Regions from separate parts of the Homo sapiens genome. Here region 1 is linked to region 2. The links come from fine-mapping of genetic effects on gene expression. A gene starts in region 2. The other region holds a variant in brackets. All regions are shown on one strand. Distances are from middle to middle.

What was found. PIP is the estimated chance that this variant, and not a neighbour inherited with it, causes the effect.
Region 1: its variant is the best candidate, but not a certain one, in a credible set for the expression of TRPV3 in testis (GTEx, PIP 0.74).

Annotation. Positions count from the first base shown.
Region 1 is chr17:3,523,387-3,528,759 of GRCh38, reverse strand. TRPV3 (transient receptor potential cation channel subfamily V member 3) reads left to right here. Exons shown (of 18, transcript NM_145068.4): 11 at 634-735; 12 at 1,833-1,906; 13 at 4,397-4,562. Among named protein-coding and RNA genes, the nearest start is that of TRPV3, 32 kb to the left of the region's middle. RefSeq lists enhancers at 235-1,155, 4,046-4,545. The variant T/C (reference allele first, on the strand shown) is at 2,303.
Region 2 is chr17:3,554,917-3,560,289 of GRCh38, reverse strand. It overlaps TRPV3 (transient receptor potential cation channel subfamily V member 3), which reads left to right and starts at 2,478. Exons shown (of 18, transcript NM_145068.4): 1 at 2,478-2,614. RefSeq lists enhancers at 970-1,029, 1,100-1,159, 647-1,461, 1,370-1,599, 1,630-1,679 and 2 more and a silencer at 3,460-3,519.

The DNA of each region.
Region 1 (5,373 bases), 32 kb after region 2:
AAAACTGAGGCCCAGAGAGACCAGGAGATTGGGCGGGGTCCCCCAGTTGTCCTTCACGCTTCCCAGGGAACTGAATATGTCTTCAGTGCTTAGCCTGGGCTAAGCCCCAGGTGCCGAGTCCCAAGGGCAGACCCTTGCTGGGAGGAAAGTTGGAGAATTCGGAGACTCAGGCCCTGCACAGGGTCTCTGTCTGTAAATATAGAACTAGCTGGGTGTTTCTGCTGTGAGGGCTGCAGGAAACGGGAGGAGGATAAGCTCTCCCTGCCTGCTGGGCTTCGGTTTCCCATGCGTCACGTGGGGCACAGAGCCTCGGCTTTATTTAACGGTGCTGTGAGGCCATGTTGAGTGCCTGGATATGGATGGGTTCCGGAAAGGCTATTGCAATGGAGTGTGAGGGTTGTTAGCACGGATTGGATGATATTCTTCGTTGTAGAGTTCTGGGTTTCCATCAAGGGTGAGGAGAGTTGGGGTCAGGGAGCTGCTCTTCCTTCTCTTGCCCTGTACAGAGATCAGGTTTCATGCTGGTCTCTGGCCCGGCTTGAGTGTTTCACCTGGGTTTTGGTCCCTCTAGAGTTGGTGCCAGCCCTGTCCTCCTTGCTTCCTATACTGACCACCCCTCTTCTTTCCCTGCAGGCCATCCCGCACCCCTTGGCCCTGACGCACAAGATGGGGTGGCTGCAGCTCCTAGGGAGGATGTTTGTGCTCATCTGGGCCATGTGCATCTCTGTGAAAGAGGTAAGTGGGCCACCCGGCCCTTCCAGACCGCCCCGCGAGGCAGGCAGGTGACAGCCTCCATCCCTCTCTGCTCTGCCATTACTGCTGGGGGGTTCTGGGGAGGCGTTTCCTTCCCAAGCCTTACCTTTCTGAGTTATAACATGGGAAAAAATGGATAAGGCTGGCCTATCCTACCTACTTCATCCATCTACTTCTCTATCCATCTGCCCAACTATCCGCCATTTATCTACCTTCCCAGCCACTCAGTGTCCCTTGTCCTCTTCCACCCCCATCCACCCATCCGATCACCTGCCCTCTTTCATGGACCCAGCCACTCATTCATCCATTCACATGTCCACTCATCCTTACCGACCATCCTTCTATCCTTTATCCAACCATCTTTCCATCTCTCCATCTGTCCATCCGTCCATCCATCCATCCATCCATCCATCCTTCCATCCATCCAATGAATCAACACATATAATCTGAGCACCTTCTATATATGTGTGGCCCTGGAGGAGGTGACAGGGTTGGGACGAGTTTGCCCTCTTTGAATTCACAGCCTGGTTGGGGACATAGCATAGGCATAAATATCAAGACTTTATGATAGACCGAAAAAGACCCTAAGCTGGGTTCAGATCAGTGTTCAGAGGAAGGGAGGTGACTTTTATCTGGGGACAGGGAATGGTAGAGATGCTTGAAGGCAGAGATGGCACTTACTCTGGTGGGGTAGGATTGGGCACGAGGACGATGAGGACAAGGTCATTACAGGGTGGATATGGGGAACAGCATGAGCAAAGGCTCGGAGGCTGGAACGCTAGGCTGGATGTGGGGAATGGAAGGCGGCTGTAGTGGTAGTACCGCTTTGCAGGTTCTGGGGTGAGGATGGGGTAAGGAGTGAGGGAGGTGAGAAGATTTGAGGGAGCGTTCACCTTCACCGTGGAGGTGCCTACGCCCCCCAGGCACAGGTCCCCTTTCAGATCCGCCACCTGGACTCTAGCTGGGCCTTTGTGCATTCAACCCTCACTGAGTCTTGGTCCTGGGGAAGCACCCTCTGCTCAGCTCCCCTGCTGAGGGCCATGAAGAGGGTGCACTGTTTCTTTCCTTCCTGGCCTTAGGGCATTGCCATCTTCCTGCTGAGACCCTCGGATCTGCAGTCCATCCTCTCGGATGCCTGGTTCCACTTTGTCTTGTAAGTAGGTCTGGCCCCTTGGTTATCGCCTCACAGGCAGGGTTGACGTCCTGTATGGTGGCTGCCGTGTCCGCCTCTTGAACAAATATCCTACTGTGCCACGGTGTCCCAGTCACTCTGCCATGGTTACACGCCAGGGGTCTCCTCTCTTCCTCCTAGTAGGAGACACGTAAATGCCCATGGAGAAGGTCAGAAAACTTCAGGGCTGTGGGGCCCAGTGGCTCACGCCTGTAATTCCAGCACTCTGGGAGGCTGAGATGGTGGTGATGGCCAACTCTACCCATCACAGAGCCCCACGTGGAAGGCAGCATGGAGTGGAGAAGGCGGCAACAGGCTTAGCAGTCCTGTTTACGTTGTTGTTTTTTTTTTTTAGTTGAGGTGGAGTTTTACTCTTGT[T/C]GCCCAGGCTGGAGTGCAGTGGCGTGACCTCGGCTCACTGCAACCTCCACCTCCCAGGTTCAAGCGATTCTCCTGCCTCAGCCTCCTGAGTAGCTGGGATTACAGACGTGCACCATCACACCTGGCTCCTTTTTGTATTTTTAGTAGAGACAGGGTTTCGCCATGTTGGTCAGGCTGGTCTTGAACTCCTGACCTCAAGTGATCTGCCCACCTCAGCCTTGCAGAGTGCTGGGATTCCAGGTGTGAGCTCCTGCGCCGGCCTCTTCTGCTTCTTATTTGTTTTGTTAGTGTGGAGGGAGACATTCTTCATTTCAGTCTAAAATGCAGTTGATGAATTAGATGGTTTTTCTTACAATCGTGCCTGTGTTGTGACTTTGGTTAGCTATTTTATAATTTTGGAAACTGTCTGATGTTATAAGACAGTGTTTTTATCCAGATGTCTGCATAATGGATGTTATGCAGATGTCTGCATGTGACTGTGTAGGAGTAGATATTGATTTTGTATGTTTGCGATATATTATACTTAAAAACATTTTAACTGTGGGCCGGGCACGATGGGTCATGCTTGTAATCCCAGCACTTTGGTGGGCCAAGGTGGGCCTATCATCTGAGGTCAGGAGTTTGAGACCAGTCTGGTGAAATCCCCTCTCTCTACAAAAAATACAAAAATTAGCCTTGTGTGTGGTGGCATGCACCTGTAATCCCAGCTACTCTGGAGGCTGAGGCAGGAGAATTGCTTGAACCAGGGAGGCGGAGGCTGCAGTGAGCCGAGATCATGCCACTGTACTCCAGCCTGGGCGACAGAGTGAGACTACATCTCAAAAAAAAAAAAAAAATTAATTGTGGTAAAATACACATAGCATAAAAGTTAGCATTGCACCCATTTTTTAAGCGTAGAAATCAATACTGTGAAGTACATTCATGTTGTTGGGCAATCAGTCTTTAGAACTGTTTTCGTCCTGTAAAACTCAAACTCCATACCCCTTAAACAACAGCCCCTATTCCTCTCCTTTCCCGGCCCCCTGTAACCACCATTCTTCCATCTTTCTCTGTGAATTGGACTATTTTAGGTACAGTCATATAGTGGAGTCACCTATCTTATTTCACTTAGCATACATCATACTTTAAAAAGATTTAATGCTGGGCGCGTTGGCTCACGCCTGTAATCCCAGCACTTTGGGAGGCCGAGGTGGGTGGATCACCTGAGGTCAGAAGTTCGAGACCAGCCTGGCCAACATGGTGAAACCCCATCTCTACTAAAAATACAAAAATGAGCCTGGTGTGGTGGCGGGTGCCTGTAATCCCAGCTACTAGGGAGGCTGAGGCAGGAGAATCACTTGAGCCTGGGAGGCGGAGGTTGCAGTGAGCAGAGTTCATGCCACTGTACTCCAGCCTAGGTGACAGAGCAAGACCCTGTCTCTGCCCCCCTGACCCCCCCAAAAAACACCACGATTTAAAAAGTAGGGTTTGGGGGACTTTTGCTATGATTGGCTTTTAAGTATAGATATTGGCAGTTTTTGTCATTTTGGTTAAAAATACAATCATTTACCACATCTTTGGTCTACTCCAGTAGTTCTCAAATCGATGCAGGAGTCAGAAATTATGTGGGTGATTTAGATTATTTTTCTTTTCTTTTTTTTTTTTTTTTTGTAGAGACAAGGTCTCACTATGTCACTCAGGCTGGTCCTGAACTCCTGGCCTGAAGCGTTTCTCCTATCTCAGCCCCCCAAAGTGTTGGGATTACAGGCGAAAGCCACTACACCAGGCCCGTGTGGGTAATTTAAAAAATATATGGCCTCCCGGGCAGTACCCTAGAATCTTCTGCGGCCCTGTGGATGTGTGTTTTTTCTTTTTTTAAAGTCCCCACCAGCTGCAATCAGCTTACCACAGGCTGTGAGTGGCATCTGGTGATGTCTCTACAGGCTGAATTCTATGGTAGCCAAATGGATCTGAGGCAGCGTGATTCTGGTCTCTTCAGCATCCGTCACCGGGGTGACTGTTCAGGGGGTTTAAGGGAGGTTTGGGGGATTTGCATATCTTTGCCCTGATGCTGAGAAGTAAGTAAGGCCCGTGTCTCCTGTGTCTCCTGAACAGTTTTATCCAAGCTGTGCTTGTGATACTGTCTGTCTTCTTGTACTTGTTTGCCTACAAAGAGTACCTCGCCTGCCTCGTGCTGGCCATGGCCCTGGGCTGGGCGAACATGCTCTACTATACGCGGGGTTTCCAGTCCATGGGCATGTACAGCGTCATGATCCAGAAGGTGCGTTGAGAGCTGCGCCGGCGGGAGGGCCCTCGGAGGATGGCCATTTTTCAGATGGGGAAACTGAGATCTGGAGAGGAAGAGGGGTTTACCAAGGGGCAGGTCACTGCTCTTTCTCCCAAATGCCATGCACTCCCTTTGCTTTCGGCCAGGCTTTAAGTGTCAAGACCTTAAATCCCCCAGGCTTGTGGGGTGCTGGGGAGGGGTACAGTTTGTGGAGGAATGTTCTCACCCCTGGGCAGTGGCGTGCTGGTAAACATTTAACGACTGTTCTGTGTGTGTGTGTGTGTATGTGTGTGTGTGTAGGTGGAATATGTATATTCCATATATATACACAAAAGACTTATCATACATTTTACTATATAAACGATGTGTATCACACAATTTGCAAATAATGAAAATATACCATGCAGTTTATTGTAAATTCCACATAGCCAGTTGAGTCTCAGAATAATTTGTTGCTTTTTTTTTTTTTTTTTGGAGACCAAGTCTTGCTCTGCTGCCCAGGCCAGAGTAAAGTGGTGCGATCTCGGCTCCCTGCAACCTCTGCCTCCTGGGTTCAAGCAGTTCTCCTGCCTCAGCCTCCAGAGTAGCTGGGATCACAGGCACGCACCACCATGTTGGCTAATTTTTGTATTTTTAGTAGAGACAGGGTTTCAGCATGTTGGCCAGGATTGTCTTGAACTCCTGACCTCAGGTGATCCACCTGCCTCGGCCTCCCAAAGTGCTGGGATTACAGGCATGAACCACCGCGCCAGGCCTATTTGTTGCTTTTTATTGAATTCTAGTTTTTGTTGTCAACTTTTGGTTG
Region 2 (5,373 bases):
AAACACCAAAGAGTGTGATTGCTGGATTGAATGGTAAGAGTATGTTTAGTTTTGTAAGAAACCACCAAAGTGTCTTTCAAAGTGGCTGCACCGTTTTACATTCCCACCAGTGATGGCCGAGAGTTCCTGTTGCTCCATGTCCTCACCAGCATTTGCTGGTGCTGTCAACATTTTGGATTTGGGCCATTCTAAAGAGTATGAAGTGGTCATTTTATCTTTTATCTTTTTTTCTGTTTCTCTCTGTGTGTGTGTGTGTGTTTAATTTAAACTTAATAGCATTGACCAATGTGTTGTATGCATTTACACTATAGCATGTTATATTTTTGTTCTGATCATATTCCTTTTCACTTTTCCATTCTTTTTCTTTTTTCTTTCTTTCTTTTTTTTTTTTTTTTTTGGAAACGGAGTCTCGCTCTGTTGCCCAGGCTGTACAGTGGTGCAGTCTCGGCTCACTGCAACCTCTGCCTCCTAGGTTCAAGCAATTCTCCTGCCTCAGCCTCCCGAATAGCTGGGACTACAGTGTGCAGCACCTCACCCCGCTAATTTTGTATTTTTAGTAGAGACGGGGTTTCACCATGTTGTGGCCTCTTCCCTCCTTCCAAGTCCAGGCAGATGCTCCCTCTTTCCCGAACTCATCCCCTACACCCCATCACAGGGACTTCCTCCCGCCTTGGGGGTCTCAGCCCATTTTGTCCTGATGACCCACATGGTGGGTCATGGTTCCTGCCTGAGCCTGTGTCCCCTGTGGCCCACGAGGGTGGACACGGCCTTCTCCAGTTCTGAATCCCTCGTTGTCCACCTGCGCCCTTGCCACGGCCTCTCCCGTGGGCTCTCACCATGTGCTGGGTTAAATGGGGTTGAATATAGACCATCTAAGGGGCTGAAGCTGCTGCTTCTGTGTGTTTGGGGTGGGATTAGGATGGGCTCGGGCTTCCTAAGTAGTGACTGTGACTCCACTGGGTGACCTGGCTCCTGCTGCCTCTCATAGCAGAGCGGGGGTCCCCTTCTTCCTTGCTGGGCACAGGGCACACCTCTGGGTGGGAGACAGGGGCCTTTTTCACCAGCTCCCACCTGCCCTCTGAGAAAAGTTATGAACACGAGCAAAATGGAAGCACTGACATTTGGCAGCAGCTTCCTCCCCAGGCGTCTGAGCCGCCAGAGGCAAACAGGGAGGGCGCGGGGCTGGGTCGGGAGAGGGTGAGTAAGCTAGTGGCCGGAGGCCGTGCTCAACCCCAGATCGGGCTTTTCCGGTCGAGTTTCAGGCACAGTCATGAGATTTCAGATTGTGAGTGGGAACTTCAGGACCCCCTGACTTCAACGGCAGAAGCGGTCTCCTGCTTCACCCACACCCTCAAGTCTGGTCTGCCCCTTACCGGCCATAGGTCCTGCTCTCCCGTGGCCTAGAAGCCTCACCTGCCTCCTGCCTCCTCCCCAGGCCAGGCAGGTTGTGATGATGAGGGATTGAGAGGCTCACAGCTGGGGATTTCCCTGCCCATCAGGCGCCAGCTGCGGCCGCGTCAGCAGAGACTTCCTGCTCTGTCCCAGCTGTGTCTTGTCCACATCTCGCCCCGGGGAGCAGGTGTGCAGTTCCTGAGTGACGCGAGACACACACGGCCATCCTGACTCACTCCACCCACTTCACAGCTGCAGCCTGGGCCAGGAGAGAGGGCACCGATTCCTTCTATGACGCCCTGGCCTTGGAGAAGGGCAACCTGGGCAGTTGCTGGGAGAATACATTGAGATGACAAAAGCAATCATAGCTAAGAGCTGACATTGTTTATTGAGTTCTTGCCGTGCCCTGGGCCTTGTTCTGGCCCTTTCTACTTGTACTTGTTGAAGCCCCACGATAACCTTGCAAAGTGGGTTTATGAAGCACGTTTCACAGATGAGGAGACTGAGGCTCGGAGAAATGACCTGCTAAGGTCATTCAGCCAGGAAGGGGTGAGGCTGACACTAAGGGCCATGATGCGTGACTGCTGGTGGACAGCATTAAATGGGGACTTCCGTCCCCGAGAGACCTGATCCCAGGAACCGACTTTTGAGAACAAGTGCCGAGTCTTGGGGCTGGCCACCCTGAGGTCAACCAGGCTAGGCCTGGGCTGCGGTCTTCCCTCCCAGGGGACAGAGCAGAGCGCTTGACTCTTCACTAGGCCCTCCCACCTCTGTGATCTCTTTGGCTCTTCACGGCTCCCTTGGAAAGTAGATGTTATCATTCCCATTTCCTAGTTGGAAAAATAGGCCTGAGATGGGCAGTCCCTGCCCAGCATGGAATGCCAGAGAGGGAGGAGTTGGACCCACAACTTCGATCTTGGCACCTGCGGCCTCCCCTGCCTTTTCTCCGGTGGGGATGAGGCTGCTGTGTGGGTGTGGGGGTGACTCACACGGGCCACGTGGGTGGGCGGGTGCTGCAGCTGTGGCTGGTGGGCGTGGCCTGCCTGGCGCCGAGGGCAGGTGGCTCAGCCAGTTCTGCCTCTGACGCCTCATTCCAGCCATCCCTCTGCCTGCAATGAGAGCTTCCCGCCGCCTCAGCCACAGTCCCACCCGGGGGCCTTGGGCCCCAGACATGCGGTGATCTCAGGGCAAGGGTTGCCACGACCACCCAGAACCTCACCAGGTGAGTCTTCTGTGCACAAGGCAGCTGGTGATCTCCAAGGCCCCTGGGGAGCCCAGAGCGTGGCCCTCAGAGGTCCTCTGGGCCATGTCTGCCCTTGGCCAATAGGCCTTGGGAGGAGGGTTGGAAGGAGCTTGGGCCCCAGCCAGGGGCCCACTCTTGGCTGTAGGGAGGCACTCTTGGCTGCACTCTTGGCTGTAGGGATGTGTGAGAATATAGGTCCTTACAGACTCAGGAACATTCCCCTGAGGTTTGGGAATCCTGGGGAGGGACATCTCAATCTCACCACTGCTGGGGGCAGAGGAGAGGCTCCTGCCTCCCGAGGCTGACCCAGGGAGGTGGCTTTCTGGGGCAGGATTGTGATGGGAGTTCAGGATGGGAGGAGGTGGCCCCACCGTGGGAGACAGACGGGGCCCAGGCATCTCACAGGTGCTGAGTCAGCAGCTGTGGCTCCGCGGCCTGGTCTGTCGCCCGGGAAAGGCCATTTCAATCAGTGTCAGGGATTGGGAGAGAGAGGGAGGGCCAGGGCAACAAGAGAGTCCAGCAGGTGAGAACGTGGGGTTTACGGGGTGACTCAGGGAGCTAATGATAGCTGCTGCGGCCCTAGTCCAGAGTTCCCTGAGCCTCTCCTGCCCCAGAGGCCCAGGGCAGGCCACATTCTCGGGCCCAGAGAAGAGAGAGAGCAACCAGCTCTCAGGGCCACAGAGTCCTTGGGGACCATTCAGCCCACTTCTCAGAAAGGAAACCAGAGGCCCTGGGAGGGGCAAGAGACGTGCCCTTCTTCTGTCTCCTTCACGCTCGGTGCATCCCAGCCTTTTAGTCCACCAAAGGCCACGTGGGGATGGGGAAAGCCATAGAGGCTGCCCATCCTCATCAGGCCGTGACTGGACACGGGAGGGCCGGGTGCCCAGGAGTCCCTCTCTGTGGGCTACTCCACCTGCCTGGCCTCAAGGTTGCCTACGCTCCAGGGCCAAAGCTCTCCCTCGCCGATGCCTCCTCCATCCTGAGCCTGCTCCCTTTGAGTTGGAGGGCGGGGGACTCTCTCCAGCCTGATGACACCTGGCTCCGGAAACTTCCTCCAGGAAGCTTTCCTATTGGGGTAGGATCACCAGTGGCCCCAGCTCCACCCCACCCAGCTGGGTTCTTCTTACAGAAATCCGTCTTCCTGCCCCCACCTATGTGTCGCCAGGTGAGTCCCCTGAGGATGATTCAAGCTGAGAGTGGCACCCCCTGACCACACAGTCACCACCTGTCCACACAGCCCTTTCCCCGCCCATGTCATCCCTCTGTGGCCAGCTGGCCCCCTTCCCCGTCCCTATGGCCCCTGCAGCAGCCTCCTCCTGGCCCCTGGCTTCTGGTCTCCCCCACCCCCCAACGCAGCCCGCGCTCTCCTATGTAACCCAGAGCCTCTGCACCCAACTCCCAGCTGCCCCCAGGGGTCAGCCATAGCTCCTTTTTTATGTTTAATAAAAACTTTATTTTTTTTTTTTTTCATTTTTTTTGAGACGGAGTCTCGCTCTGTCGCCCAGGCTGGAGTGCAGTGGCACAATCTCGGCTCAATCCAACCTCTGCCTCCTGGATTCAAGTGATTCTCCTGCCTCAGCCTCCCGACTAGCTGGGACTACAGGCATGTACCACCATGCCCGGCTAATTTTTTGTATTTTAGTAGAGACGGGGTTTCACCATGTTGCCCAGGCTGGTCTTGAACTCCTGAGCTCAGGCAATCTGCCCACCTTGGCCTCCCAAAGTGCTGGGATTACAGGTGTGAGCCACTGTGCCTGCCTGAAGCCACAGCTCTTATGCGGTGTTCGAGGACTATACAGGGCCCAGCCTGCCCGCATGGCTTTCGCTGGCAGGGTCCCCATGAGCTCCCCAGGTTCTCTGGCCACAGCAGCTCCCCCCACTCCTGCCACTCCTGACCCTCCCAGGCTCTGTCCTCTGCCCGGCTTGTCCTTCCTCCACACAGCAGCCTGTACGGTCTATCCTGGTCTTGTTGGAAGATGTATCAGTCCCCCTTCCCCAATCCCCACACCCCTCGGAGCTCAGCACGGTGCCCAGCCCACATTGAGCATCAGTAAAGCAGGTCTGGACTGGGGGGTCGGCCTCCTCTGCCTGGGGCAAGGGGACTCAGCTGCTCCCTGCAGGTGAGAGGGGAATCTAATGGACAGGCAGCCATAAGCTGGTTACACACAGCTTTGGGTGGGCGGGGGAGATGATCGGTGTGTTGGCTGCAGAGACCACCTGGACACTGAGGAATCCAAAACACCTGAGGAGCTTAAGGCTGTGTTACTAGGAGCATAACATCTAGAGCAAAGGAGGTGATAATCTTGCTCTGTGGAGGTCAAAACTCTTGGAGAGCTGCTCATCACAAAATCGGAGAGGGACCTCAGGAAAGCAGAGCTAGTGCTTAGGAGTCCGCCTGGGACTGGTCAGCTGGAGAGGGTGTCATGAGAGAGGACAGGGGCATGGTGGTCTCTACCGGGACACCCTGCTGGACTCTCCACTAGTTCAGGGGTCCACCTGGGGACTGGTTGGCTGGGGAGGGTGTCATGAGAGAGGACAGGGGCATGGTGGTCTCTACTGGGACACCCTGCTGGGCTCTCCTAGGACCATAGCATTTGGGGGTGCTAGAGCAGGGAGCTGGGGAAGCTTTGGGGACAGCTTCTCTGTCCTTGAAGAAGGATTGGTGAACTGGGAAGGGAGGAGTGAGCTTCCAGTTCCAGGTAGTGTGAACGGGAGCTGGATGCAGCCACATGGGGCCC